4 linked regions of the Homo sapiens genome follow. Changing the gene in region 2 together with the main gene of any one other region gives a genetic interaction. Each region holds a gene or a part of one and is shown on either strand. Other genes may lie near its edges.

The links.
Region 1: of CASP2 (region 2) and XIAP, changing one suppresses a phenotype caused by changing the other (phenotypic suppression), as found in Homo sapiens cells (one study listed by BioGRID).
Region 3: of CASP2 (region 2) and BCL2L1, changing one suppresses a phenotype caused by changing the other (phenotypic suppression), as found in Homo sapiens cells (one study listed by BioGRID).
Region 4: of CASP2 (region 2) and BCL2, changing one suppresses a phenotype caused by changing the other (phenotypic suppression), as found in Homo sapiens cells (one study listed by BioGRID).

The regions. Positions count from the first base shown.
Region 1 is NC_000023.11:123,897,635-123,905,496, forward strand, and holds part of XIAP (E3 ubiquitin-protein ligase XIAP), read left to right. Parts: intron 1-2,858; coding exon 2,859-3,059; intron 3,060-7,862.
Region 2 is NC_000007.14:143,284,542-143,292,212, reverse strand, and holds the start of CASP2 (caspase-2 isoform 1 preproprotein), read right to left. Parts: upstream 3,863-7,671; 5' UTR 3,758-3,862; coding exon 3,684-3,757; intron 2,626-3,683; exon of another isoform or gene 2,557-2,625; intron 1,593-2,556; exon of another isoform or gene 1,309-1,592; intron 674-1,308; coding exon 523-673; intron 1-522. Other genes in the region: TMEM139 (transmembrane protein 139 precursor), read right to left, coding at 5,384-5,789, 6,011-6,255. UniProt on the Homo sapiens protein: Is a regulator of the cascade of caspases responsible for apoptosis execution. Might function by either activating some proteins required for cell death or inactivating proteins necessary for cell survival.
Region 3 is NC_000020.11:31,663,445-31,671,217, reverse strand, and holds the end of BCL2L1 (bcl-2-like protein 1), read left to right. Parts: intron 1-27; exon of another isoform or gene 28-113; intron 114-4,070; exon of another isoform or gene 4,071-4,227; intron 4,228-5,131; coding exon 5,132-5,269; 3' UTR 5,270-6,760; downstream 6,761-7,773. UniProt on the Homo sapiens protein: Potent inhibitor of cell death. Inhibits activation of caspases. Appears to regulate cell death by blocking the voltage-dependent anion channel (VDAC) by binding to it and preventing the release of the caspase activator, CYC1, from the mitochondrial membrane.
Region 4 is NC_000018.10:63,308,908-63,316,769, reverse strand, and holds part of BCL2 (apoptosis regulator Bcl-2), read left to right. Parts: intron 1-7,862. UniProt on the Homo sapiens protein: Suppresses apoptosis in a variety of cell systems including factor-dependent lymphohematopoietic and neural cells. Regulates cell death by controlling the mitochondrial membrane permeability. Appears to function in a feedback loop system with caspases.

The sequences.
Region 1 (7,862 bases), on a different chromosome or scaffold from region 2:
TCACTGCAACCACCGACTCCCGGGTTCAAGCGATTCTCCTGCATCAGCCTCCCCAGTAGCTGGGACTACAGGCACATGCCACTGCGCCCGGCTAATTTTTGTATTTTTAGTAGAGACAGGGTTTCGCCATGTTGGCCAGGCTGGTCTTGAACTCCTGACCTCAGGTGATCCACCTCAGCCTCCCAAAGTGGTGGGATTACAGGCGTGAGCCACTGTGCCCAGCTGGAAAGACCATTTTTCAGAAGGGTCGATGAGGGAATGGAAGGGAGCCACCAACATCTAATTAGGTGGGCACAAGTAATGGAGCAACAAAACAAACTGAAAATAAAAACAAGTCAAAGATAGGAGAAGCAGGAAAGAGCAATGTCTAGTTGCCCTCTGGACATTTCCACCTAGAATGCATCTCTAAAAACCACTCAGACTGAATCTAATCCTGCACTTTTTTCTCCTGTATTGGTTAATAGTACCACAGTTCACAAGGTTGCCCAGTAATTTATGTTGTTCCTAAGCTCTTTGCTCTCTGTAATCCTTTTACATTTAATTAATCATCAAATTTGATGGATTCCACCTTTTTAATGTTGCTTCAGACTTTCCCACTTATTCTGCTCTAGTTCAGGCCCTTCCTTGTTTTTCAACTGGACAATTGTAGTAGTCTCCTAACTGGTCTTTTGTCTGTATTATAACCTGCCAACAGAGTTTTTCTTTTTGTTTGTTTGTTTTTGTTTGTTTTGTTTTTTTGTTTTTCTGAGACGGAGTCTCGCTCCGTCACCGAGGCTGGAGTGCAGTGGCGCGATCTCGGCTCACCGCAACCTCCACCTCCGGGGGTCACGCCATTCTCCTGCCTCAGCCTCCTGAGTAGCCGGGACTACAGGCGCCCACCACTATGCCCGGGTAATTTTTTTTTTTATTTTTTGGTATTTTTTGCAGAGACGGGGTTTTGAACTCCTAGGCTCAAGCGATCTGCCCGTCTTAGCCTCCCGAAATGCTGGGACTACAGACGTGGGCCACCATGCCCAGCCTTATCTTTTATTTTTATTTTTTAATATAGATAGGGTCACACTTTGTTGACCAGGGTGGTTTCAAACTCCAGGCCTCAAGGAATCCCCCTTGGCCTCCCCAAAGTGCTGGGATTACAGGTGTGAGCCACTGCACCCAGCCTCCTCTCTTTCAAAAAACATTTATTGAGCTATAATATACATACAGTAGCCGGGCGCAGTGGCTCACGCCTGTAATCCCAGCACTTTGGGAAGTTGAGGCAGGTGGATCACGAGGTCAGGAGTTCGAGAGCAGCCTGGCCAATATAGTGAAACCCCATCTCTACTAAATATACAAAAAAATTAGCCAGGCGTGGTGGTGCATGCCTGTAATCCCAGCTACTCGAGAGGCTGAGGCAAGAGAATTGCTTGAACCTGGGAGGTGGAGGTTGCAGTGAGCCGAGACGCGCCATTACACTCCGGCCTGGGTGACAGAGCGAGACTACGTCTCAAAAAAAAAAAAAAAAAAAAAAAAAATATATATATATATATATATATGATTTTATATATATATGATTTTATATATATATGATTGTGTATATATATATGATTTTGTATATATATATGATTTTGTATATATATATGATTTTGTATATATATGATTTTGTATATATATATGATTTTGTATATATATACACACGCACACATACACACATAAAGTGCTTAAAGTACCCTAATCGTAAGTTTTCTACTTGATGAATTTTAACATATATATGTTAAAATATATATTAAATATGTGTTAAATATATATTAAAATGTATATGTTAAAATATATATATTTATCTGTGTGACTATCCCCCAGATTAAGATATAGAACATTCCCACAACCCTAGAAAGTTCTTTCATGCTCCTTCCCCATCAGTACCCACCCCCAAGTTATATTCTGGCTTCTATTACCATAGATTAATTTTGTTTATTACCATAGATTAGTTTTGAAGTTCTTATAAATGGACTCATGCAGTAGGTACTCTTTTGTGTCATAATGATGAATTATGATTATGTTTTGCTCATTATATCTATGAGATCCATCCATATTGTCTGTGGCAATAGTTTTTTTTTTTTTTCTTGCTGTGTAGCGTATGAATATACCACAATTTATGTATCTGTTCACCTGATGATGGACATTTGAGTTGTTTCCAGTTTGGGGCTATTATAAATAACACTACTATGAATACTCTTGTGCATATCTTTGGCAGAGATATACACTCATTTTTAATACCCAAGAGTGGAATTGATGAGTCAGAGGGTATAAGTGTCCTCTCCTAGCACTTCCCTACACATGCTGTGTTCCTACTTTAAGTATCATAAAAACAAGTTTCCATTGACTTTCTTGCTTTATTCAGTCCTACCCGCTCTGCTACAGAAACGAAGTTTGAGAGCTAGGAAATTGACACATTCAAGGTTATAGACTGGGACTTCCCTGATTTCCCATCATTTTCCCCAAATAATTGCTAGTGACTCAGTAACAACATCCACTCTTTAAGTAACTTAGGTTAATTGTTAATGAGTACAGCTAGATTCAAAACAGTTCAGATTTTTGAAGCACTTAACCTTTTTCTTGCCTATTTTACCTTGCATCGTTTCAAACACTACAAAATACATACTCATTGCATTTACAATTAATTGTAAGATTCTGAAAGTGATTTTTCAGTGCCTGAATACTTCAAAAAATCTTCCCAAAGCAGCTTTGCTTTGCTGGTTTGTTTTTATTCTTTCGCTTGCTCCTTAATTTTTTCATTTTAACTATATTTTGCTATTGAGTTGTGATAATGAAAATAATTGTTTAAATTCTATGTTCTTTTTCCTCACCAATTTTTATTTCAGATGATACCATCTTCCAAAATCCTATGGTACAAGAAGCTATACGAATGGGGTTCAGTTTCAAGGACATTAAGAAAATAATGGAGGAAAAAATTCAGATATCTGGGAGCAACTATAAATCACTTGAGGTTCTGGTTGCAGATCTAGTGAATGCTCAGAAAGACAGTATGCAAGATGAGTCAAGTCAGACTTCATTACAGAAAGGTATGCATTGCTGTTTTTAAAAAGCAAGAAAGGGCCAGATGTGGTGGCTCATACCTGTAATCCCAGCACTTTGGGAGGCTGGGACAGGTGGATATGGACATTTTTTAAACGTAACCTTAATGCTGTGTGTTAGTCTGCTCAAGCTGCTATAATAAAATTCCATAGACTAGGTGTCTTAAACAACAGACTTATTTCTGACAGTTTTGGAGGCTCCAAAATCAAGGTGCTGGCTGATTTGGTTATTGATGAGGGCCCTCTTCCTACCTTGCAGATGGCTGCCTTCTCACTGTGTCCTCACATGGCATGGGTTGGGATTGGATGGGACAAGATGGAGCAAGTACTCTGGTCTCTTTTCCTCTACTTTTAGGAACACTAATCCCATCATGGGGGGGTCTCATCTTCATGACCTCATCTAAACCTAATTACTTCCCAAAGGCCTCATTTCCAAATATCATTACATTAATCATGGAAAAAAGATTAAAAATATGAGTTCTACCAGCCTGGACAACATAATGAAACTGTCTCTACAAAAAATACAAAAATTAGCCGGGCATGGTGGTGTGTGCCTGTAGTCCCAGCTCCTTGGGAGGCTGAGCGGGGAAGATCACCTGAGCCAGGGAGGTCAAGGCTGCAGTGAGCCATGATCATGCCACTACACTTCGGCCTGGGCAACTGAGCAAGATCTTGTCTCAAAATATATGTATCTCTCCTTTAAGGATGATGGACACTGTAGTGCTTGCCAACAACATCGAAGGTTAAAGAAGAAGTTTCAAACTGAGTACACTTTTGGGTACTTTACCTGTAATAGTTCTCTAAGCTCTTGACCATCCTCCCTCCAAAAAGATGAGAATTCTCCTACTGCTAAAAAAACTTAAACGTTTACTTATTTTTGACGCATTTAAGATCCTTTTGATCTTTAAGATATTTCAAGTGCTTTTGAAACACTATTCAGATAATCGTATAAGTTATGAAACAGTATGAACATTAATGATATTTAAAATTATATTCATTGATGTAAGAATCAATGGAAAGCTTCCAATTTTTTCCTTATAGATGCATTTATTTAAAACTTACACAAGCTCCACTTATCTTGGTGGTGGTAAAATAAACCCTTTAATTGTCATCTTTCTTTCTTTTTTTAATTTTTTATTTGTTTTAAGACGGAGTCTCACTCTGTCGCCCAGGCTGGAGTGCAATGGCACGATCTTGGCTCACTGCAACCTCCGCCTCCCCAGCTCAAGCGATTCTCCTGCCTCACCCTCCCGAGTAGCTGGAATTACAGGCATGTGCCACCACGCCCGGCTAATTTTTTGTATTTTCAGTAGAGACAGGGTTTCGCCAAGTTGGCCGGGCTGGAATTTTTCTACTATAACAGAAACACAAGCAATTGTGTCATTTTTTTCCTGCATCTTAAACACGCGCTTAATTGTTTGGCCATAAATTGTTAGTTTTCAAACCTTAATGTATCTGCAGCAGAAGGGTTTAGCAGGTTGTAATAGGAAGAGATCAAGAGACTGTGCATTAGGGAGAGTGTCTTTTCTCTATCTAACAGGAGTCAATGGGCGCTCATATTATCACTGAGACTACAAACTAGGATGGTGTGGGAAGGAGAGCCTAAGGGTTGGAATTCATTTGAACTCTCCTCAGTCTCACTAAATTGAGAGGCAAGTAATTGATACAGGCTCTCTACTCATGCTGGGACTGCTGCCTATTTGTCTTCCCAAAAGCTGATGAGGAAAGACTGGCACTAAGAATCTTTTAATTTTATATAAAATAAGGATGGGGCTAACTGAAGTGAAGCAGGTGAGGGTTATTAGAGAAAATATAACATTGTCACTTACTGAGAAATCCTAGATTTAGTGCTAAACTTTTTTGCCAATGGCTGTGTAACAGAGAATGCCCTAGTAAAAGGTCTTGTAAAAATAGTACCGAATCAGTATCTTTTTTTCTTTCTTTGAAAAAATTATGTAGTGTAAGATAAAGCCCTTTATTTAGTATATGTACTAAAGTACTTATTTTAATCTTTATGTGTATATATATTACTGTATATAATATAAAAATCAAATAACCCATATTCATTTCTTATCTGTCTTTCCATATGAATCTGCTCTAATAGTAAAATGAATAACATCAGTTTATTCTAGAAGAGGTTTTAAATAATTACAAATATTAGCAAATAACATCAAAAGTTATCTAGCCTTTATTGCTCATGTGCCAGTAACCTTCTGACCTAGAAGAGGGCTTTGTGGGGAGGAGAAGGGGAAAGGCGCTGTAGAGAAGTATGTAGAATCCAGTAGTTACCTTTAAGCCAAGAGGGAAGTAATTGCCAGTGGTAAACTACTGGTCTGAGGGGAAAAGATCTATGCCCAGAATATCACCATCTCAAGTTAGTGGCTTTATACAAGGATGAAATAATATAGAAAAAAATGAGATGATATGGTATCACAAACAATCAGAACCAAAGGAACCTTAAAGATTATTTTATAATTTTTTTTTTTTTTTTTTTTTTTTGGAGACGGAGTTTCACTTTTGTTGCCCAGGCTGGAATGCAATGGTGCAATCTTGGCTCACTGCAACCTCCACCTCCCGGGTTCAAGCAATTCTCCTGCCTCAGCCTCCTGAGTAGCTGGGATTATAGGCATGTGCCACCACACCCTGTTAATTTTGTATTTTTAGTAGAGACGGGGTTTCTCCATGTTGGTCAGGCCGGTCTCCAACTTCCAACCTCAGGTGATCTGCCCGCCTCGGCCTCATAAAGTGCTGGGATTACAGGCATGAACCACTGCACCCAGCCCATTTTATAACTTTTATGACCTTAATTGGGAACCTGAAGTACAGATGGGCTGTTGCCTAGGATCACGCCGATAGTTGGGAATAGAATTCAGATTTCCTGACTTCTGGTCCAGTGTTTTGGGGTTTGTTTCAGTTTTTTTTTTTGTTTTGTTTTTTGTTTTTTTTAGATTTTAAAAAATTGTGATAAAATACACATACAGTTTACCATCTTAACCATTTTTAGTGTATGGTTCCGTAGTGTTAAGTACATTTACATTGTTGCACAGTCAACCTCCAGAACTCTTCATCTTGCAAAACCGAAACTCTACATCCATTAAACAGCCAGGCGTGGTGGCACACGCCTGTAGTTCCAGCTGCTTGGGAGGCTGAGGCAGGAGGATTGCTTGAGACCAGGAGCTCAAGGCTGCAATGAGCTGTGATTGCACCACTGCTCTCCAGCCTGGGATACAGAGCAAGACCCTATCTTTAAAAAATAATAATAATAATAAAAACATGTTCATTAAACAACTCCCCATTCCCTCTCTTCCCAACCCCTGGCAACTACCATTTTACTTTTTGTCTCTATAAATTTGACTACTCTAGGTGTCAGTATTGTTGTTGCTTTGTTTGTTTGTTTGTTTCTTCCTTTTTGTGGAGAACGGGGTCTCACTATATTGCTCAGGCAGGTCTCGAACTCCTGGGCTCAAGCTATCCTCCCGCCTCTGCCTCCCTGAGAGCTGGGATTATAGGCGTGAGCCACCGCGCCCAGCCTGTTTGTTTGTTTTTAACTCGTTGTAGCATTACATCTAAAAGTAATGTGGAAATTACTTGTTCTCCTTTTGATTTTTTTGGCATGAAATACACACTTCATTCTGACTTTTTTTGGTGTTGATGCTTTCTTATAATATAAATCAGCTTATAGTGCCGTTTCTTTACTTGTATTTTTTCCTCTGCCTTGAGTACGTTTTCTCTATCTGTATACCTAGTCCCATTCCCCACTCTACCCCCAACTCCCTGAATCTACTTTGTGAACTCATGTTTCAAGGTTCAGCTCAGAAGTCACTTCTTTCAAGTTTTCTCCCGCACCCACAGCAGAGTTAGGAGCTCCTTCTTATCTACTCCTGGTGCTGGTAGAGTTTTGTTTTGTTTTATTTTGTTTTGTTTTGTTTTTCTTGAGACAGGGTCTCGCTCTGTCGCCCAGGCTGGAGTGCAGTGGCACACAATCTCAGCTCACTGCAACCTCTATCTCTCAGGTTCAAGCGATTCTGCTGCCTCAGCCTCCCGAGTAGCTGGGATTACAGGCATGCGCCACCACACCCAGCTAATTTTTTTTGTGTGTATTTTTAGTAGAGATGGGGTTTCACCATGTTGGCCAGGCTAGTCTTGAACTCCTGACCTCAAATGATCTGCCCGCCTCAGCCTCCCAAAGTGCTGGGATTACAGGCGTGAGCCACCAGGCCTGGCTGAGCATTTTGCTTTTTACACTATTTTGGGACTGGTTTCTGCCCTGCCCATTAGACCAAGCTTCTTAAGGGTAAGTGCTTTATCTTCTTATCTCTGATGCATTCCATGTTTGAGCCTATAGTTTTTATTATGCCCAAGAGGGTACTTTTTAAGAAGAAAGAGATTAAACAATCCTTTCCTCTACCCCCTAGCCAGAGAAACCTTTCTGAGACATAGATGTGATCATATCTGTCTCTAGTTTAAAACCCTTCACTGCCTCCCAGGACCCTTGGGATCAAGTCCAAACTCCTTTACGTGGCTCGCCTAATCTTTCATGATCAGGCACCCTTTTGTAGCCTCATCTCATGCTATTTTCTCAAATTCTGTGCCCAAGCTTTGCCTGTGCACTTGTAGGCCACGTTCTGTCTCTCTCCTTGGAGCTTGTTTATGCTGTTTCCTTTGCCTAAAACACTTTTCTCCCATTGCCCTTATCCCCCAAGGCCTCCTTCTCCTAGTAAACTCCTAATTCATTCTTTTGTACCCAGTTTTAGGTATAATTTCCTCCAGGAGGCCTTCGTTTATGCATGC
Region 2 (7,671 bases):
ATCCAAGAATTCTTTTTACAGGAAAAGTGTATGTATGGGTGAAGTCCTTTCTGTTATTCTTGAGTTATATATCATTTCTCTCAAATGCTCTACGGTAGAAGGGCATTTCCATTTCTTTAGAAAGGTACAACATCCAGCTGGGTGTGGTGGCTCACACCTGTAATCCCAGCACTTTGGGAGGCCGAGGCAGGTGGATCATGAGGTCAGGAGATCGACACCCTCCTGGCTAACACAGTGAAACCCTGTCTCTACTAAAAATCCAAAAAATTAGCCAGGCATGGTGGCACCTGCCTGTAGTCCCAGCTACTTGGGAGGCTGAGGCAGGAGAATCACTTGAACCTGGGAGGCAGAGGCTGCAGTGAGCCAAGATCGCGCCATTGTACTCCAGCCTGGGAGACAGAGACTCTGTCTCAAAAAAAAAAAAAAAAAAAAGGAAGAAAGATACGACACCCTTTCCATATTTTGTCATGCTCTATTCCCACCCCATGATCAATTTATCTTCTCTCTTTTGCCTCCAGATACCTGGATGAGCTCCCTCATTTCCAAGGTGATGATGTCCTTCTCCAGAAGATGTTCTAACAATTCGCTCAACAACAGCTGTTTGGCTAGCACCACTCGGTTCTTTTTTAGAGTTTCCTGATGATGAGGATGCATGCCACACACTCCCAATATCCTACAGATAAACGGTAGAAGGAAAGGCTGTCAAGTCACAATTTGACACAGAAGAGTGGAGTGGAAGAGGCATGAATAGGAAGAACAAAAAGAATAAGACTTACAATAACCAAGATTATGCATATTTCTTAAATCTGGTTAAAGCAAAGATGTACTAAGCAGGAACACATTGATCATAAGAAAATAATGTCTAATTCCTTATGGTTTATGTTCAGCTGAGATCATCTGAGATGAATGGTCTGACTAGAGGAGGGAAATATCTGTCTTAAGCAAAACAATACCCCCAAGTACACATATTTATGAGAAGGAATACTTCTCTGATAGACCAATTTTAATAAAGAGAATTATTTCAGAAAACATCTCACATTATCTAAGCTGGTGAAAGTGATGTAAGTTTATAATGATCTTAGATGAGGGTTAAAACACTATGGTAAAAACTCAAGCCAATGGCTTTAACAGAAAATAAATGAGGCAGACACTAACTCTCTTTCACTAGTGATATAAACATATAATTACATGTTTTTTAAAACTTTTAAGTTCCAGTGACAAAATGGCGAATCCTGTTAAGATGTGGATAAGCAGAAAGTATGACAGAAAGTCACAGTGGATAGGTATTTATCTATTTACTTTAAAAGAGTCTCACTGTGCCACCCAGGCTGGAGTGCAGTGGCTATTCACAGGTATGATCCCATTACAGAGCAGCACAGGAGTTTTGACTTGCTCCATTTTTGACCTGGGCGGGTTCACCCTTCCTTAGGCAACCTGGTGGACCCTGACTCCCAGGACATCACCACACTGATGCTGAACTTAATGTGGACACGTGACTGGCATAGCACACTATAGCCCAGAACTCCTGGACTCAAGCGATCCACCTGCCTCAGCCTCCCAAGTAGTTGGGACTACAGGCATGTGCTGTCACCTCCAGCTAATTTTGCTACAGGCTTGCAAAGAGATCAGCTTCTGCTTATAAACTAAAATAATCCTATTGCCAATATGTCATCTACATGCCTAGTTTACATAAATCCAGAGTTCTCTAGCCTGCCCCGTCACATTTTCCACATATGTAACAGCAGGAAGGGTGGCACCTGATAGCAGTGAAAATACAATAACTTCCATTTATAACTTAAAAACCTACTCTAAAATGCATTCTGATTTCTAAGGTGTTAAAACATGAGGGGAGGCCGGGCACGGTGGCTCATGCCTGTAATCCCTGCACTTTGGGAGGCTAAGGTGGGCAGATCACCTGAGGTCAGGAGTTCAAGACCAGCCTGGCCAACATGGTGAAACCCTGTCTCTACTAAAAATACAAAAAATTAGCCGAGTGTGGTGCTGCATGCCTGTAGTCCTAGCTACTCGGGAGGCTGAGACAGGAGAATCGCTTGAACCTTGGAGATGGAGGTTGCAGTGAGCTGAGATCATTCCACTGCACTCCAGCCTGGGTGACACAGCAAAGACTCCGTCCAAAAAAAAAAAAAAAAAAAAAAAGGGAGGGAAAAAATGTGTATCTTAGAGTCAGTGAAATACCACACATCTATGGAATGGATGCACTTGGCTTGCAGATGCTATTGGGTGAGAGATTTATAGTTAGAAGAGGGAAGAGCTGGGTCCTGGAAGAACTGGGAGAACTAAGATAGCAGGTGGGATCCTAAAACAGATGAAGTGGGTTGGAAGCAGCCAATGAATCTGAGGTTTGGAAAAATGAGTCTGAAACTCCATTTTTTCTTCTTTTTACTGTAATATTTCCATTACCCAAGACTTTCAGGAAAAACTGGCTACAAGAAAAAGAGCTATACAAATAAAAAAACCTATTTAAGAATGAATCACTTTCGAATACGTCAAAGCAGTAATAACGATCACATATAACACTGCAGCTGGGATACTAACCAGTGGTGCAGCAGATTTCTTCCATTAGTTTACCAGTAGTATTCGCTCCTTAAATCGTTCTCTTCCTCTGGTTTCCATGACAGCATTCTTTGGGAGTCTTCTCTCTGCCTACCCAGTTCCTGTTTTCTTTAGAGGGCCTTTGGCCTGCCCTTAATATTGATATTCCATTAGGGACGCCCCTTCAAAGAGCCTTTCCCTAGACAATCTCACCCATACTTGCAACTTACTGACTTATAGTTCTTAACTCTCTCGAGTTCCAGACTTGAATTTTCAATCAACTCTTTAGTTTTAATCTGAAGCATCACCCCCTCTGCACACCCGCTCCTTCCTCTACTCTGTAGTATGAGAGTCTTAAACGTGAACATTATAAAAGTTTCCAATCATTTAGAATTTCAGGACACAACTGGAAGGGGAGGAGGGGCGAAGGGCACCACGGAGTTCCTACGTCTTAATTCTGTGTCCTTCTGCAGGTTCCCTTTGCGAAGACCTTAATCTTCAGTCTCGAGCAGGAGGCATTACAATGTTCTCCTGGGTGATGACTGCCATGAAATGGAATGACCGGGGCAGAGGCATGGACACTCGGAGCCACAGGAACCCCCTTGTTCTGCCAAAAGTACTCAATTTCCAAACCCTGTATTGACTTCTTTGAAAATCTGGTCATTCTATGCAAAGCCATGCAGATCATGATACAATCGATACAAATCAAATGCACATCAGGCAGAGCACCGAGGTCTGCAGAAGGTCTCGTCGATTTTTAAGGAGACAGAGTATGGTCTTTTTATAGTTTCCCTCATAAGGGAGCCAGAGGAAAGGATGAAGAATCTTCAAGAGAACCCAAGAGCGGGCAGGACTGCAAAGACCTCCCCTTTAGAACCCTCGTGGGTTGAACAAAGGGAGGCTGGGGCAGTCTTTTCCCACGAGAGACAAGGCCAAGAGGTCCGCCCGCGGGCCCTTGCGCGGAGTCAGGCTCGGAGCGGCTCGGGCGGGCGTCCCACCCTTGGCAGGAAGCGCGGACACGGCTGCTTTCCGGGGCTCCGAGGGGAGGGGGCTGCAGGGCCGCACGCCTGGGGGCCACGCTCCCCTTCCCTGGGCTCCCCTAAGGAGCCCTAAGACCGTTCCCTACTTACCTGCGTCCCCTGTCAGCGGCCATCAGCTCCTTGTGCTGGAAGGTGGACCAAGACCCCGCGCTCGGCGCCGCCATTTCCCGCTTTTCCCGGGCTCTCCGCTGCGCACCGCCCACAGCCCAAACAAACCGGGGGCCGTCGCTTCCCCCACATCCCTCCCCTCAGACGCGGACGCACACTGCGCCTGCGCCTGCGCCCTGCCGCGCCCACACACCAGGCCACCCAGTCCCCGGCCCGGTGCGTGCGCAGGCGCAGAGCTCTAGCGGCGGCCGCGCGGTCCAATGGGGTGAAGTGGGGTGCTCGGCGGACAGACAAAAGGAGGGGAAGGAGCGGGGCGGGGCAAAGGGCGGGGAAAGAGCGAGGGCGGGCGGGTGTGCTCCGTTCGGCCTGGGAATCCGATTGGTTATCGATTCCCGCGGAAATCACCCCGGTGCCTCTCGCGCCCCCTGGCCGGCCTATGGCGATAACTTCACGGAGACGGGCGTGGCTGGAGTTTTGCTTTATTGAAGTTGAACGGTTGGGGCCAGGCTGCGAAGGAGACTGAGAGCGCGACAAGGCCCTGGACAGATGCCCGCGCGGGGAAGGAAGGCTGGCTTAGGAGGGGGCGTCAGCTATGGTTTAGCAGCTTCCAGCGACCGAAACCTACATCACAGCCGCAGCACACAATTCCAGGAAACCTGGTGCTCAATATTGGGATCTCAGGAATCAGGACCGGCGGCTGGGGTGAAAGCCTAGCGGTCAGAGCTTAGGAGTGAGGCAGAAGCTGTTAGAGACTCTTCGCAAGTGACCCCGGGGCTACATATGGATGATTCAAGAGGGAGTCTCCTCGCCAGAAAGTTCACATGTTTCACTCCTTCTGGCCTTCATACCAACCCATTGTTAAAACTGGAAGTCCCTCCACCTGGGGTCACTGACTCCACTGTTTTCAGATAGGATGGGGACCCTGCACTGGAGACTGCTCTCTAGCCCCTGGGCAGGAGAGGCACAGACACTGCTACGCACGCGGAGCAGGGATCACCAGCGCTTTGACTGACTTTGCTCGTCCAGGAGGCTGGGGACATGCGTGCCCATGCTCAGCCCACCCCCTCTGTAGACACAATTGGTCGCCCATTCTGTTTATAGGAAGTCTTCCATCCTGCACCAGCAGCTGTCCCTAGACAGGGATTGGGAGACATGCAAGTTGCTTGGCTTCCTATTACCTTGTGTTGAAAACACAATAGGCTTTGGGATCAGGAGTTCATTCCAGTTATTTTAATGTTATTTACTAGCAGTGTGCCCTCGTGCACATTATCAAACTCCTCTGACTCTTGGAATCCTCATTTTTCAATAATAACTCACAAAGCTGTCAAGCCTAAGGGTTCTAACAGCTCGAACAGCACCTGGAACAGAAGCAATAGCCGCCACTCAGAGGTTACTTCTTCCTTCTCCGCCTTCTCTGGATCACCTCCCTACCTCATCCTCAATCTAACGCTGGAAATATTGGATATGGGGTAGGTCACCAAATGTTGCCAGAAGACTCAAATTATGCCACCCATATCTCAGCTGGGAAGGGCTTACCGTGGCCTGACTCTCCTCAGGGTCCAAGTCCCCATTTATGATGTCCAGGCAGAAACACTTGTTTCTGACACATAGTAGGCGCTGGAAAATGTTAGTCAAATGAACGAGGTCTGGTGTGGAGAGAAGAGAAATCTTGGGAGAGTCATTTAAGGGGGTGCCCAGTTGTCCTCATAAAAAACACTATCATCATCAGGGTGACCAAAGCAGACATCATAGGCAGGGGGTGGAGTCAGAGGCTCTAATGTGGGGACTGCCGCCAAGCTCTGCAGATCAGGAGCAGTGGACACAGCCCGTGGTCCCCGAAGCCGAAGGTTGATTGGAGCTCTTCCAGGGCTTCCTTCCTGGGCCATGGACCCCTCTGAGGCCATTCGCCTCTGTTCCAGTTTGGCTCTCCTGGACCCCTCTGGATGGCTAGGTTGTTCCTCCTCAGGTGCTGGGGGTATCACAACAGTGCTGTAGGGGGGTGGTTGGTCCAACTCTTGGGGGCGGCACTGGGATTCTAGTCCCACCACGGCCTCTTCATAGACTGGCACTTCAAAGGCTTCATTGTCCCTGAGGGAAGAGAAATAAGGCCATTGGTGGCTTCCATGAAAGAAGCCCTTTTTCCCTTTTTTTTGTCTGCTGTGGGCAAAAGATCCTCTGTTGGCCTCTGACCCCTCCTCCCGCTGATGCCAATGACAGGAAACCAGAGACTCTCTGCCTCAGAGACTACAGGGAGAGAGGGAGGATGGGCCCAAGGTGTATTCCTCTTACGATGCCCACCCTTAACTCACCGTGCATTGCCTGAGGGCCCTGGGCTCTCAGTCTGCATTGATTGGAGCTGGGACCGAAGCCCCCATTCCAGAAACCGGACCAGGAGATAGGCAAACAAGAAGAAGCCACCCAATGTGAGAAAGAAATAAGCAACGGGGGTGATGTCCGTCTTTATGCCCAGCAAAGCCAGCCCCAGTAGGAAGGAGGCGCAGCACAGGAGGAGAAGCGGCTTCTCCAGTCTCCCCAGTAAGTGCATTGGCACCATGGCCCCTCCCCAGGCTCCTGCAAAAAGACACACAGCTATTGTGTCTACACTAGCAATTGGTGTCATGGCTGTGTCAGATACCAAAGTAACCATATGATATTTCTTTGTTTGGTTTCTAGGTTCTTCAATCTCAAATAAATCATCTGTAGAGTCCCCTCCAGTTCCGAAATTCTCTCTATGTCTTGGAGTGTGTGGAATAGCCAGGAAACCAGCCCAGGAGCTTTGACTCCCAGCCATTCTGTAAGTTGACTGTGTCATGGCTCTGCCTTCTTTCCTTTCTCCTTCCCTGTAGTCTCCCTTCCAGCTTTGTCCCTTACCACCATCCAGGATCCGGTCCTGGGCACGCCCTGCCTGGGGCTTCAGTGCACACTGGCATCTCTGGAATTCAGGTGATGGGGCAGGCCCTGCCCTTCCTCTGTTATTGCTCCTACTGGATCTCCACCCCCACCTCCCCAGCCAGAGGCCCTCAATCCAGCCCCGTTAGAGAGAAGAGGGGAGGGAGCCCCACTTACCCTGTCTGACTCTGTCTTTTCCTTTCCTCCGGTGTTAGCCCATGCTCCAGGTGGAGGGAGAAAGTGCACACAGGCGCACCAAAGCCACAGGGACACAACTGCTTGAGAAACAATTGTACAGGCAAAGGCCCAGCACAATGGCCGGAGGCCCTGATAACTCCTGTCCTCTTCTAGACCCCACATCTGCCAGGGCCCTCCTCTACCCTCTGCTGATCCTAACTTGTTAAACTCAGTTTGCAAATTTCCTGCCAGGAGGTAGCCCAGTGGCTGGGAGGCGGTGGGCAGGGGAACTCTTTTCTTTCCTTGTAACAGCAACAACCCGAGGCAGCCCATACCCCAGAAACAGCCTGTCAGAAGTTGCCAGCGCTCTGTGTAGCAAGGAATTGCAGATTCCCTCCTCACACCTCGGTCCCAATCCCATGACCCTCCCGACCCTCGCACCCACACCTGTCTCAGAAGTTCGTCGCTCACCTGTCTCCACAGACTGTAGAAAGTAGATGGGGTGGGGGGTGGTGGGAAGGGCCGGAGCGGGTAGGTGGAGCCCACTGGCCCCACCCTCTTTTTCTGTCCCAATCCCTGTTCTGGCCCAGTCAGTCTCCGCCCCTTTTCTCCCTAAGGCTGACTTCCAACTGCTGAACCTTGATTTGTTCTGGTTTTTACTCTCTCCACCCACCCATGCTGTACCCTAATGAGAGTGCACCCCTGACTCCCAATGATCTTTGTACTTAGGACCGGAGTTAGCATTAACCTTTCCCTCTCGGCGCATATTGTATGTTAATTACAGCCCTGGGCAGTTTGCCTTCTATTTGGGTAATTTACCTTGTGCGTCTCTCCCAAGTGACTGGAAGCGGAGACCTCGGCTTATTTAATCTCTGTAGATCATCACACAGTGCACTGCACACAG
Region 3 (7,773 bases), on a different chromosome or scaffold from region 2:
TTGGCCTTGCTGACTTCATGGGCCTACCTGGCTAGGAATCCATGACTCTCCTGTGGAGGTCATTAGCCATTGCCTGTCGCCAGTGGCCCTACAAACCCCCACATGGAAGTCAGCTACCCCACTTTCCTCTTAACTCAAGCAGAGGATGCAGACAGGCCCTTGGGCCTGGGTCTCCTAGAAACCTTTGTGACATCAGAGACCTCCCTACAACCCACTCTTAAACCTCATCCCCTGCCTACCATGCCAGCCTGGTTAAAACCAGTGGGAGCCACCCAAGGTGCAGTAGGGGCTTATCTCTGCTTTTCCAGACCAGGGCTGCTCTGCAATCCTGTTTATTTATCCAGAGCAGCCGCCTGCTGAGAAAATGGCTCTGTTTATTTCCAAGTGTGTCGTGTGAACCATGGGCTAAATATACCCACGCCACCGCCTCTCCAGCACCCGCCCTGGAACAGCACGCCCCATTTTGCTCATGCTGTCTCCGCAAAAGCAATCCTTAGAATCCACACCCCTTGGAAATACTACTCCCCTTCCCCAGGAAAAGAAGCTGAAATGGAAATGAAGGTTGTCATGACCAGGAACACATGAGTGGAAGCTGGGGCAGGTGAAATGAGAATGTTTCTATGGCACTGAAATGAGAATGTTCCCTCCACCCAGGAATGACTGTTTCTGGACAGTGAATGCTTTGTGCCCTTGTGGGGACAGCGCCTGTTTACTCCAACCCAGCCCCAGAGCTGAAAATTTCCTGTGGCTGCCAGCCGTCTACTTCAGGAAAGTTCCCATCAAGGGAGCCAGGCCTCTCCCATTTTGGCTGCAACCCCAGTGTCCCTGGTTTCTTGAGAGACATTTGGCCTCTTGGGATAACCAGGGCCTTCTCCTATGCTCTTCATAGTGTGGAACTCTCCCCCATCACAGATAAGCCTATTTTGTGACTCCACCTGGGTGTACTTGGGAGCAACAAAATCAAACCTCCTGTAAGAATATTTTTGTCTGCCAAGACCCGCAGAGGCTAGCTAGGATGGAGAGGGAGACAGGGAAGCATAGCCACGGCCCTAGTGCCCTCCTTTCCCCAGATCCTCCACCTCAACCCTGCTCCCACATTCCTTCTCCTGGAAATCCATCCTTTCAGCACTACTGACAGGACAGGTCCCTCCAGCCTCCAACTTCAGGGAAGTGTCCTGACATAGCAGCCCTCCCTTTGAAGCTAGGCAGTCTTGCAGTTTGATCCCGACTCTGCTATCTGTTTGCTGAGTGTTCCCTGCTTTAAATATCAGGCATCTTATTTGTGAAATGTGGCTCAAATCTACATCTCAGGATTCTGATGAAGATGAAATGGGATACCAATGCCTGACATGTAGTAGACATGCAATACATTTGTTAACTCATGTATTCTCATGTATTTACAGAGCAAGACACTGTTCTGAGCACTGGGTGTATAGGAACGAGACAGGACCTCTGCCCTCATCAAGACACATCTAGTATAGGCCGAGGGCAGTGGCTCACGCCTATAATCCCAGCACTTTGGGGCTGAAGAGGGCAGATCACTTGAGGTCAGGAGTTTGAGACCAGCCTGGTTAACATGGTGAAACCCCATCTCTACTAAAAATACAAAAATTAGCTAGGCGTGGTGGCAGGCGCTACTCGGGGGGCTGAGGCAGGAGAATGGCTTGAACCCGGGAGGCGGAGGTTGCAGTGAGCCAAGATTGCACCACTGCACTCCAGCCTAGGTGACAGAGCAAGTCTTCGTCTAAAAAAAAAAAAAGACACATCTAGTATGGAAGACACATCACAACAAAAACAAAGTACAGAATCTAGTTATGAGAAGTACAGCTTAATGGGGGAAAAATGTGGTGAGGTGGTGAGGCCGGGCATGGTGGCTCACGCCTGTAATCTCAGCACTTGGGAGGCTGAGGCAGAAGGATCCCTTGAGCCCAGGAGTTTGAGACCAGCCTAGGCAACAAAGTGAGACCCTGTCTCTACAAAAAATTTAGAAATATTAGCCAGGCATGGTGGTGTGTGCCTGTAGTGTGGCAGCTACTCAGGAGGCTGGGGCAGGAGGATCATCTGAGCCCAGGAGGTCAAGGCTGCAGTGAGCCATGATTGCGCCACTACAGTCTAACCTGAGTAACAGAGTGAGACACTGTCACAAAAATTTAAAAATTAAAAAATAAAGCACTGAGAAGAAAAGCTGGCATGGTGGTCATTCTGTGTAGTGTAGTTCCTGTAATCAGGAGGCTGAGGCAGGAAGATTGCTTGAGTCCAGGAGTTCAAAGTCAGTCTGGGCACATCTTTTAAAAACAAGAAAAAAAAAATGGTGGCTGGGCATGGTGGCTCATGCCTGTAATCCCAGCACTTTGGGAGGCCGAGGTGAGCAGATCACCTGAGGTCAGGAGTTTGAAACCAGCCTGACCCAACGTGGAGAAACCCCGTCTCTACTAAAAATACAAAATTAGCCAGGTGTGGTGGCACGCGCCTGTAATCCCAGCTACTTGGGAGGCTGAGGCAGGAGAATCGCTTGAACCTGGGAGGCGGAGGTTGCAGTGAGCTGAGATCGCGCCATTGTACTCCAGCCTGGGCAACAAGGGTAAAACTCTGTCTCCAAAAAAAAAAAAAAAAAGGCCAGATATGGTGGCTCGTGCCTGTAATCCCAGCACTTTGGGAGGCCGTGGGCGGATCACTTGAGGTCAGGAGTTTGAGACCAGCCTGGCCAATATGGCAAAACCTTATCTCTACTAAAAATATAAAAATTAGCTGGGCATGGTGGCACATGTCTGTAATCCCAGCTACTCAGGAGAATCGCTTGTACCCAGGAAGCAAAGGTTGCTGTGAGCCCAGTTTGTGCCACTGCACTCCAGCCTGGGGGACAGAATAAAACTGTGTCTCAAAAAAAAAAAAAACTGAGAAGAAAAATCAAGGAAGGTAAGGGGACAGGCAGAGAGAGACGGGGGTGGTGTACTGTTTTAGACAAGGCAGTCAGGGAAGGCCTCCCCTAGGAGGTGACATTTGAGGGGAGTCATGGTTGTGAAATGAGGGAGTGAGGCAGGCGACGACCTGGGGTCAGGTGCTCCAGGCAAGCAGGAACAGCAGACTCCTGCGGCAGGAGACGTTGGAGGAACAGCAAGGAGGCCAGTGGGACTGGAGTGAAGTTCAGGGGACAGGGGTGGGGAGGAGGCCAGAAAGTGTTGGAGCCAGATCCCACTAGACCTTGCTGGCCAGAGTAAGGAGTGGGGACTTTATTTCAGGTGTGATGGAAGCCCTGGGAAGGTTGAGAACTTGGAGTGACTGAATGGAGTGTGCTTCTGCAAGGGCTGAGATTCATGGGTCACTGCTCTCTACTGCCTTAATGTTGAGGATTCCTTCAGTCAAATTAGCAGCTCAGTGCACATGGCATTTTGCTAGGTACCAGGGATACAAAAATAAATGATGCTGCCCTTCTAAGTGCAGGAGAATGCTGCTGGAGGGCTTCCAGTGTTCTTAGAAAGCTCTGTGTGGAGCATGGACTGAGGGGGTTGTCAAGACTGGAAGTGGGCCACGGCAGGGGTCACAAGTGAGCAAATTGATAGGTGAGACCTGAGGCCAACTGGAGATGGCATGCCTGTCTTGAGGGAGCAGCCACTCGGCCATTTGGGACTGGTTGGAAATGTAGGCCCAGTGTGGCAGAGGTCTTGGTAGAGAGGCAAGAACCAGCCAGTAACTCATTCATTTTACACACACACACACACACACACACACACACGGTACTATGGTACTTCCTTTTTTTTTTTTGAACGGAGTCTCTGTCACCCAGACTGGAGTGCTGTGGTGCGATTTCTGCTCACTGCAACCTCCGTCTCCCGGGTTCAAACAATTCTCGTGCCTCAGCCTCCTGAGTAACTGGGATTACAGGTGCGTGCCACCACACCCGGCTAATTTTTGTATTTTTAGTAGAGACAGGGTTTCACCATGTTGGCCAGGCTGGTCTCGAACTCCTGACCTCAGGCAATCCACCCACCTCAGCCTCCCAAAGTGCTGGGATTATAGGCATGAGCCACCGCACCCAGCCTGGAACTTACTTCTTTCTTACATATTTCTAGGTGCCAGATGCCAGTTTTAGATTCTGGCTCCACCACTGACACAGCTGGGTGACCTTGATCCAGTCCCTGGACCCTCAGAGGCACAGCTTCTTGGCCTGTAAATGGGGAGAGACAGCCTGCATTGCAGAATTGTTGGGAGGATTAAAGGACAAATTGGGTACTACGCTTACTCATAAAAGTTATGTTCTAAGCGTCCTTCTCCCTGCCCCACAGGCTGCTGCACCCTGGGCTGGGTAATTTAGCCCACAGCTCCTCCTTCCCCCTGTCATGTGCTTCCCTTCTGACTTAGATTCAGGGCAGAGGGCTGTTGATCACAACCTCCTGGGCCCAGAGTCACACCCCCTGCAGTGGAGGATGTCCGGGACAAGGCCTCACAGACCCCGTGATGGAGGCCTGTCAGTCCTGCATCATTGTTACCCTCTCTCCTCTGCCCTGCTCTTCTTGTCACCAACCTGCCCACCAGAGGCTCCCTCCAGAGGGAGGAGCCTCTGGCTGAAGTCCCAGGACCCATTCTACCCCTGAATTGGCCTCAAATGACCCTGGGGATTTAGCCCTGGGCTTCCTTATCCCTCCCTCTGGTGCAGCAGTAGAAAATCTGAGGCCTAGTGGCTCCACACTCCACACTACCCTCAGACTCAACTCTAGGCTCCTTGCGGCTTCCAGGCCACGTATGGTCTGGCTCTTGCTCACCCCTGCACCATCATCTCCCCCATGCCCTCCTCTCCTGCACTCTGCTCCAGCCACCTGGCTTCCATCAGTTCCCTGACCCTGCCCATCTCGTTCCCACCTTGGATTCTGGAGTAAGTGCTACTTCTTGACTTACCTCAGACAGGGCACTTTCCTCCTCTCTACCTGTTTCTCAGCAGTAACATGGTTTGATTATCACCAATGGAGGGTCAAGAAAGAGGACCACCCTTAGCCCTTTACCTGGCCCAGAGTGGGCACAGATGGCTACAGTTTTTCACATCACCAAGGCCATAGCATGCAGATGGCCCCTTTCCCCACCCACCTACATCACTCTCTGAGGACTAAAACTGCACCTTCCTTCTCTCTCCCTGCAGGATACTTTTGTGGAACTCTATGGGAACAATGCAGCAGCCGAGAGCCGAAAGGGCCAGGAACGCTTCAACCGCTGGTTCCTGACGGGCATGACTGTGGCCGGCGTGGTTCTGCTGGGCTCACTCTTCAGTCGGAAATGACCAGACACTGACCATCCACTCTACCCTCCCACCCCCTTCTCTGCTCCACCACATCCTCCGTCCAGCCGCCATTGCCACCAGGAGAACCACTACATGCAGCCCATGCCCACCTGCCCATCACAGGGTTGGGCCCAGATCTGGTCCCTTGCAGCTAGTTTTCTAGAATTTATCACACTTCTGTGAGACCCCCACACCTCAGTTCCCTTGGCCTCAGAATTCACAAAATTTCCACAAAATCTGTCCAAAGGAGGCTGGCAGGTATGGAAGGGTTTGTGGCTGGGGGCAGGAGGGCCCTACCTGATTGGTGCAACCCTTACCCCTTAGCCTCCCTGAAAATGTTTTTCTGCCAGGGAGCTTGAAAGTTTTCAGAACCTCTTCCCCAGAAAGGAGACTAGATTGCCTTTGTTTTGATGTTTGTGGCCTCAGAATTGATCATTTTCCCCCCACTCTCCCCACACTAACCTGGGTTCCCTTTCCTTCCATCCCTACCCCCTAAGAGCCATTTAGGGGCCACTTTTGACTAGGGATTCAGGCTGCTTGGGATAAAGATGCAAGGACCAGGACTCCCTCCTCACCTCTGGACTGGCTAGAGTCCTCACTCCCAGTCCAAATGTCCTCCAGAAGCCTCTGGCTAGAGGCCAGCCCCACCCAGGAGGGAGGGGGCTATAGCTACAGGAAGCACCCCATGCCAAAGCTAGGGTGGCCCTTGCAGTTCAGCACCACCCTAGTCCCTTCCCCTCCCTGGCTCCCATGACCATACTGAGGGACCAACTGGGCCCAAGACAGATGCCCCAGAGCTGTTTATGGCCTCAGCTGCCTCACTTCCTACAAGAGCAGCCTGTGGCATCTTTGCCTTGGGCTGCTCCTCATGGTGGGTTCAGGGGACTCAGCCCTGAGGTGAAAGGGAGCTATCAGGAACAGCTATGGGAGCCCCAGGGTCTTCCCTACCTCAGGCAGGAAGGGCAGGAAGGAGAGCCTGCTGCATGGGGTGGGGTAGGGCTGACTAGAAGGGCCAGTCCTGCCTGGCCAGGCAGATCTGTGCCCCATGCCTGTCCAGCCTGGGCAGCCAGGCTGCCAAGGCCAGAGTGGCCTGGCCAGGAGCTCTTCAGGCCTCCCTCTCTCTTCTGCTCCACCCTTGGCCTGTCTCATCCCCAGGGGTCCCAGCCACCCCGGGCTCTCTGCTGTACATATTTGAGACTAGTTTTTATTCCTTGTGAAGATGATATACTATTTTTGTTAAGCGTGTCTGTATTTATGTGTGAGGAGCTGCTGGCTTGCAGTGCGCGTGCACGTGGAGAGCTGGTGCCCGGAGATTGGACGGCCTGATGCTCCCTCCCCTGCCCTGGTCCAGGGAAGCTGGCCGAGGGTCCTGGCTCCTGAGGGGCATCTGCCCCTCCCCCAACCCCCACCCCACACTTGTTCCAGCTCTTTGAAATAGTCTGTGTGAAGGTGAAAGTGCAGTTCAGTAATAAACTGTGTTTACTCAGTGAACAAAGAGCCTGGGCTCTTGTGTGCTCCGGGATGGGGAAAGGAGGGGCCGCTGGAGAGCTGGGTACTGGTCCTGGCTCTGCTGCCCTCAGGGGAGGGCCTTGGACAAGTCCTTCCTTCCTTCTGGGCCTGAATTTATCCACCTGTACGGTGACAGGGTTTTACTGGGTACATGCTGTGTGCTGGGCACTGGGGCTGCATGTGAACAGGACAGACACAGTCTCTGCCCTCAGGAGCTGACATTCTAGTGGGAGACACAGCCACTTGGCAAGTGTTTACTGAGCTCTGCTCTACACAGACATAGTCCTGGGCACTGGGGACTTCTTCAAACAAAACCTTTGCCTTTACAAGCATTCATTCTAGTGGAAGAGACAGACATAAGCACGGCTCTAGCTGCTGTAGGGTGTGGGGGAAAGGTGTGATGCCTTTCCTCACCCATCAGAAGGTTCTGTGACTGACATTCCTATAACAAAAGAAAAACAAAGTGGCAGTTCACACCCTGTAATCTCAATACTTTGCGGGTGGGGGATGGGTTGCTTAAGGTCAGGAGTTCAAGATCAGCCTGGGCAACAAAGTGAGACCCTGTCTCTACAAAAAAATTTTTAAATTAGCCAACCCAGCAAGGCCAGTCCAGATTCTTCTTGGCCTCTGTGTAGCATTCCTTCCTCTCCTGTACAGGAGACAAGACATAGGTCAGAGTATTTATTTGTTTTTTAAGAGGGTCTTGCCCCGTCACCCAGGCTGGAATGCAGTAGTGTGATAGATAACTGCAGCTTCAAATTCCTGGGCTCAAGTGATCCTCCTGCCTCAGTCTCTTGAGCAGCTGAAATTACATGTGAGTGCCACCAAGCCTGGCTAATTTTCAAATTTTTTTTTGTAGAGATGGGGATCTTGTTATGTTGCCCAGGCTGGTCTCGAACACCTAGCCTCCAGTGATCCCCATGCCCAGCCGAGAATTTGTGGCCAGCTTCTACACAGTAGAGCAGAGGAAGGTTACAGTAATATTTCTGTGTTTT
Region 4 (7,862 bases), on a different chromosome or scaffold from region 2:
CCACATGTTTTTATTACATTTTACAAAGTGTGCTCATACTAGGAGGCCAAATAGAGAAAAGGCCAAGAAAAGTAGATGATTGATGTGAACATCTGATCTTATTTGACCAAAGTTGACAAAATATTGATGCCACTGTTTGGTGTTTAAAAGTAAGATTAACTAAAATGCCCCAATTTAAATTTCTAAAATTTAAATCCTCTTCTTGAATTGTTTGTTTGTTGAGATCTCACATTATCAGATCTTTAGTAATTCTGGAAGAATTTGCTAAAGGGTGAAAAGAATATTTTTGTTAAATATTTGGTTAAGTAGGTGGTTTGATTTTTAATCACTATAACTAAAGGGGTTGGGACTTCCAGATTCCCAAAGGATCCTTTTAAACCAAAGTAAAACTGATTTAATAGTTTTACTATTTCACATTTTTGTGAAAAATTCACACTTACAAATTTTCTTTCTACTTGAAATAAATCCAAGGTGGTAACTGGTATCTGTCTATCAAATAAGTTAATAAAAATGTGGGAAACAGAGACACATGTTTATGACAGAAATTAAGATACAACCTTGATATTTGTTGCTGAATTTCAGTGTGTTACCCTCTCATGTAACTGAAGTTTCTTTTTAAGTAAAGGCTCACTTTTTTCTTTTTGTGAAACAGAGTTTTCATAGTAGACCTATCTTTGTGGTCAACAGGTATCTGAGGTTGATAAATGTAGAGGCTACATTTTATGATGCCAAACCACAATGACATACCATAGAACATGATAAAAATTTTTTGACAAAACTGCTTCTAGTAAAAATAAATCATGTAGAAGCACAGATGGTTGATGGTAAAATATGTAATAGCTTTCAGAACAATGCATAGATGGTGACTATATAGGAAAACAAAGGAATTTAGAGAAAAAATATATATATATACCAGGAAATGCACTCATAGGACACTTTGGAATAAAAGTGGTAGTGTTTGAGAATGATGAATGATTTGCCTATCATTTCAAATGTGCATTATTAATCTAAAAGTCATTTTAGGCATTTGGCATACAGACAGATTTTCTTCACATTTACACCAATTGGGGTTACATCTCTAATAATATGTTGTATTTTATAGTGTAAGGTAGTCTTAATGGTAAAGCTTCAGAAGAGAGCTAGCATATTTTCTTGGCATGTGACAATAATCTGCACTGTCCCCAGGGCTCCGTGGATTAGCCCATCTCCTGAATACTACACTGAATACTCCAGGCTTTAGACTGCAAGTCATTTCTTTTTCTTTGCTGCTGCTCGTAGAAAATTGGAACCTTGTGAGGCTGAGGAAATCTGTTTGACTTTTGTGTTCCATAACATGGATAAATCAGGTCCTTGGAATGATCAGCCTCTGATAGATTGTCCCAGAAGACTACAAATTAAATAAAGACTAAAGAAGTAATTGGCTGTAGAGTGGAGTGTGGATTTATTCCTAGGTCTGAATAAGGCATTGTGTGGCATCCAGAGAGAGGCAGGACAGAGGAAGCAGTGAGAGAGAAGCAATTCTAGAAAATGTGGATACCTTGCTGCTCAGTGTGGCTTATAGACAGTAGCACATGCATCCCCCGGAGCTTTGTAGAGATGCTAAAGCTCAGCTCCCACCCCAGAGCTACTGAGTCAGAATATGTGGTTTGTGTGCACGTTAAAGTTAGCGATGCTGGCTACCATCCTTGGTTCCTGGTGGCATCTTTTAGGAAGAGTTGCTACCTGGGATGGATTCTGCATTGTCCCCTTCCAGTGGCCTTAAAGATCTATAGTGTTACTTGGAATACCGAGTATTTCCCAGGTGTCCACTATTGTGATCTGACTTTAGGAAGACATAAATTGGATGAAGGAGAGATAGCAAGCAGGTAGATCAACTATAAGCCCAGTCTTCTCATGAATATTTTTCGTAGTAGTTATATAGTTTATATTGGCATCACTGGTCCCATTAAAAAGTAAGATAGCTTTTCTTCAATTAAAGGCAAGAGAATTAGCTCTTTTAATAGCTCTGTTAGTTATTATTTTATCCCCTCATAACACAGTTTAAATTCTGTAAATGACTTTAGTGACCTTGCAGCTTCTTTAAGACAAAGGGACTCTTGCAGGCAAGGGATTGAGTTTTGGGCAGGTGATGGAGAGTGACCCTCTAAACTGGGAACTGTGACGACATTCAGCTTCATGTCTTAGGAGAGAGTGAGATAGGAGCCACTAGAAGAATGAGATGATTCAGACAAGAGATTGTAGGAGATTGGCTTTATTCTGTTGACAAGATGGTAATCCGACTTATTTTTTGGTTTTTTGGTGTTGGTGGTTTAGGAAGACAGGAACTTCTCCACACCCGGTAGAGTTCAGCTGCCTTTTCATTAGTCAGCAAGCAGTTTTTCCTTTCTCAAGGCAGTCCACATCCAGCAAAACATTTGATTAACTGGAAAGCAATACCATTCTCATGCCAGTGTACAAATTACATGAAAGAGCATCATTTTTCTAGTGTCTGAGGATTGGCTGCTTATGGCCAATTTTGGCAGCAAGACGATAGGATTAAAAATAGCTTGAAGATGATCTAGTCTTAAATAATATATTTCATGATGAACTTTCCTTGGGAAAGTGCATCTTTCTGCCTACAAGAATCACATGACCCCTTTCAATAATTTATGTAGTAGAGAAAAACACACTATTTCTCATAGAGTTTTCAGTCATGTGCTGTGGTGTGATTGTTTCTGGACATTCATAAAATTTTATAGTTAACTGAATTCTCTTTTCTGTTTTGTTGCTATTTAACGTCCATTGAAAACATGGCTTTCTTTTGCGCATTCTGTTACTTTCAGCTGTACTTTCTAATAAGAATGGATTGCCCTTTTTAGCAATCTTTGATTGAACTGGTACATTTCAGATTACTTAAATGTCATCAGGCCACACAGCATACCAGGTAACAGAAAGCCATAAATTAAAAATAAAAAAAAGGCAAGCAAAATTCTTGTTGTTTTTTCTTATCTCTGTTCCCAGTCCTATTGCGCTATTTGGAGGGATGATACGCCCACTCATGAGCGAGTGTGTGGGTGCTGCATGTTAACAGTGGTTCTTCCCACCCAACATACCTCCGCACCCTTTTCTAAGGTCACTCATTGTGTCTTAGCAGTAGTTTAGCAAAGCAGTATCTCAGCAGAAGTGCATTTGTGCTAGAAAACAACACTGTCTTTGTAGTGTACAAGTAGAACGTTTTCTTTTTCCCCCAGAGATATATTGTATTTGAGATTCAAAGGTTCTGTTCAACCTTTTTAAGGTAATCTAATATCACCTTATTCAGGTATAACAGTAACTTGTCAATCTGGTCATCCTTTCTGTCAACCACATGTAGGAGACCACTCAGTGAATTTACTCCACTGTGAATTTTCTCTTTCATCCCTCTTGGTTTGGCTTAATCAACCTTAATGTTTGATGTCTAAGCAGGATTAATGATGAAAATCATCCAAGGACTGACAGTTATTCCACAGATGTGATTGCCAGTCTTACATGAGTCCTGCCTTGGGTTAGGTTGGAGGCACGGCAAGGAGAGCTTTGCTTCTGCCCTGGATAAACTCACAGGCTAGTGTTGCAGGCATCTTAATAAACTCGTAGTTATCATACAGCCTGATAAGCATGATCCTAGACTCAGAGACTTAGAGGAAAAAAGCAAATAACTATAAGTTATTTTGCATGTACTTCAGCCTTGGTCTAAGAACGTTATTTCTGACCATATGGCTGTTCATGTGTGCATTAGGCCTAATTTAAACAGGGCCAAAATGTAGATACTTTAAAAAATACTGTGTAACGTAGACATATGCTTAAGAGAACTGAAAGGCAGGGGGAGTTCCCTTGTTAAATATTAACCCACTAAGCACTATTTATGCATACTAAGAAGACTTAATAAACACCAGTCTACAATTTCTAAAGCATTTCATTAATTCTTTTTAAGTAAAAGACAATCAAGGCTCCGATTAGACTGACTGGAACAGGGTAATTTGAAGAACTATCTTTCTTAAATAACTCTTGTATGCCAAAAAATACAAGTAGGTTTTGAACCAGAGCGGGGGCTCTTCCTTTGAGCAGGGGAAAAAAAAGCTTCTGTTTTGTTTTGGTTTGAGGTTATATTACTGTTCTATTTATCAAGACACTTCTACGATGCTAGTTACAGAAATTCACAGTCCATTGTAACACTGGCATTTGCCTTCGGACTTTTTTGGGCTTGTGGTCTGTTCGTTTAAATGGAGACTGTAAAACTTTCAAAATGCCAACAAAGCTGTTTTCACTTAAAAACATATTTTTATAGATTGTCACTTGTTGTTCTTATATATGCCCAATTCTGTATATGCTATAGCACTATTTCTCTGCCCTCCATTTGCCAGACAAAAGATACACCCATCTGTCCTTCAGTGTGAATAAGGATTGAATGATTATTCCTCTCTCTTCCAAGCCATGGGACTTTCTCATAGGTGCCACCACCCCTGTGACCATCCCCTACCTGCCTTATCATTCCACCGGTGAGGGACCTCTCAGGTGTAGCTCCTTGTTAACTTCCAATTAGTGATGGGTAGGATTTACCTGAAGAAAACCGTAATGCGCTTAGATACTAGCAAAAGGGAGCAGAAGTGGGGAGTCTAATCAAAGTGAGAGGATAACCCTCACCCCAAACTTGCTGCAGGCAGCTGGGCAGGTCAAAATTCTGTGACCAGACACTATCCTTTTCCTCTAGTGATTATAAACTTTAACCTGTGCAGAGAAAAGATAGTATCTGCTGGCAAAATTTGTACTTACTTTGATTCCTCTAGTGCAAGATTATAGTGGGGTTATACCTGAGACTTCAATAAATGTTTGACTAACTAAACTAAAATAGCTTAGGGTAAGGACTACTTCCCCAAACGCCCTTTTAAACATGTGAGAAAGGGAATCTCCCTGACATACTGGTATGGCCATTTGTAGCAATATACTGAGAGTGACTTGGGTGATTTTCTGGGGCGATCAACCACATTCCATGAGCAGGTTAACTGTGGAAGACACCTGCCCTTGAGCATCGCGTTTGGGCCACATGCGTCAATGGGGAAATTTGTGTTTCCATTCTGCTTCTTGTTTTGCCTTCACAACTTCAGGGATAGAAGCGTATTCCATTTTTAGTTAATAATCAGCTCTCTGGGGCTTCCATGTAATGAGTCAGAAACTGATGACTGACTCCACTCTGCTCATTATCATGTCTCCCAAAAACAACCCGAGAACCCACTGTGTCAAGTGAAGCTTTAATTTTTCAGGGGAGGTTTTCTCCATTGAGACCAATACATCTTTTCTTGTGACAGATCCAGTTACCATATTTCCTTATTTTTAACTGTCGAAAAGACAGTTAAGCTGCAACAGAGTATGGTGAGTTTACCAATTTTAATACTTGAAGCACCAAACAAAGGATCAGTGTTGCAGGCTGTCTCTTCTTGACTTTTTCCAGCTCTCCTTAGCAGATAACCAGGATGATATTTTTTCTGCTTTACAACATGATGAATGCTATATCTCTATATTAACTCTGAAATTGAATTGCAGCCAAATATTCCTCTCAGCTGCATTAGAATTTTCTAAAAGAACATGAGACACATAAACTTAGTCTTCTTAGTTCAATGCTATATCTCAGATATATTGATATCTGATTTACAATTAAAATAGGAATAAAATTAAGTACAAATTATATCATCAGCTTTAAATATTGATTTATCTTCTTGAAAAAAAAAAAGCGAGTCCATAAAGGATGGCAGCATTGGCATTTCTGGATGTAAAATTTCAGGGCTATCTCCTAGCCATATCCTTTATGGATTCCTGCCAGCATCTTTAAAAACACACACACTGAAGACACACAGAGAGGTTTTGAGGTATTTTATAACAAAATTATAAGAACAGGGAGACAAAGCCACTTACTAAACATTAAAGTGATAGTATAAGAAGAAAATGATTTGAAGAAGTCCTAATTGAGGGAAATGAGCAATTGTCCACAAAACTTAACCCTGGGTTCCCAGGAACCGGGGTAGTGATGGTCATGGAGAGGGGTTTTAGAATCTGGTTATTTAGGAAAACATGCACACTAACTTGTTTCATTGAAAAAAACATTTATTGAGGCCCTACACCATGCAAAGCTCTATGCTAGGTGTTTTAGTTAAGCGAAAAAATGTCTAAGATAACTTTTGCCTTCAAGGAACTTACCAATCAGTAGGAGACCAAGACAAGGATACAAATCACTGTAATCCTGGACAATGTGTAGTAGACAGAGAGGCCCAACCCAGCTACAGTGGTATCTGAAGAGTTTCATGCCGGAGATAATGTTGAGACAAGTTTTAGAGAACAGGCAGGCGATACGGGGAGAGGGTCTTTCAGGTAGTGGAAACTGGAGGCGTCAAAGCAGGCATGAATGCGGGAGGTGTGTTTGGGGAATTGTGGAGAGTCTGATTTGACTGGGGCATGGAGAACTCTCCTGAGATAAATCCATAGTTTTGAGAACTTACCACTGCATACTAAGTTGTGAAACTTGTATAGACAGCCCTCCCTATCTTTGGGTTCCACATCCATGGATTCAACCAACTTTGGATCAAAAATATATGGGGTAGGGCAGGCACAGTGGCTTAGGCCTGTAATCCCAGCACTGTGGGAGCTCAAGGTGGGTGGATCACTTGAAGTCAGGAGTTCAAGTCCAGCCTGGCCAACATGGTGAAACCCTTTCTCTACTAAAAATAGAAAAATTAGCCAGGTGTGGTGGTGGGCGCCTGTAATCCCAGCTACTCGGGAGGCTGAGGCAGGAGAATTGCTTGAACCCAGGAGGCGGAGGTTGCAGTGAGCCGAGATCGTGTCACTGCACTCCAGCCTAGGGGACAGAGCGAGACTCTGTCTCAAAAAATAAATAAATAAACAAACAAATAAATAAAATAAAGTATATAGGAGGATGTGCATATGCAAGTACTACTCATTTAATATCAGGGACTTGAGCATCTTCAGATTTTGGTATCCACTGGGGGTTCCTAGAGCCAATCCCCTGAGGTTACTGAAGGATGGCTGCGTTTAACTGTACCAGGGATGTTGAAAGGATGTTGCAAAGGTTCTCAGACAAGGCAGGATGTGTGCGTGGGAGGAAGATTGACAGTGACTGAGCCTGGACGGGGGAGACCAGGTATGAGGTCTGAAGCACCTGGAACAGAAAGGACAGGACAGATGTGGGCACACTGCACGTGTAGAATCAAAGGACTGACAGCAGGTCGAATGTGAGGAATGAGGGAGGGAAAGAATCAGGACTCAAGTGCCATCCTGGCTGCCTCAAAAAATGATACTGTCTTCCAGAGGGAAAGGAAAGATAACAACAGTTACTGCTTTGTGGCGTACATGTGATGAATTTCATTTTGGACATTCCAGTAGGATATCCAAGTGGAAATGCCCAGTAAGCCTTAGACATAAGGATCTGGATCTCAAGAGAAAAATTGAGGTTGAACCATAATATGTCTTTCCCCTCGAATCATGTAGGTTTCTCTTTTGCCTTCTTTCATTGCCCTAAGTGGTCCTAAATGCTACTGCTGATGCTGTCTTAGTTTGCGACTGTTGTTTGCACCCCACCTTTTCCCAAAGGTAATCTGTAGACTTGCATGGATTGGGTTAAGGTGGTTAACCTGCAGCTTTGCTGTTCAAAGCTTGGCTTCCCACTACCAGTTTGCCAACTTAATGAGTACTTCAACTTGAGTCAAATTAGTATTGTTCCAAATATCCTAATAGTATCCTCTATGTGTGACTCTAGGTCTTACAAAATCAAGGTGTCCTTTCTCATTGAGACTTCCTTATTAATAAAATATTTCTTCTATTAAATTCAACCTGGCACC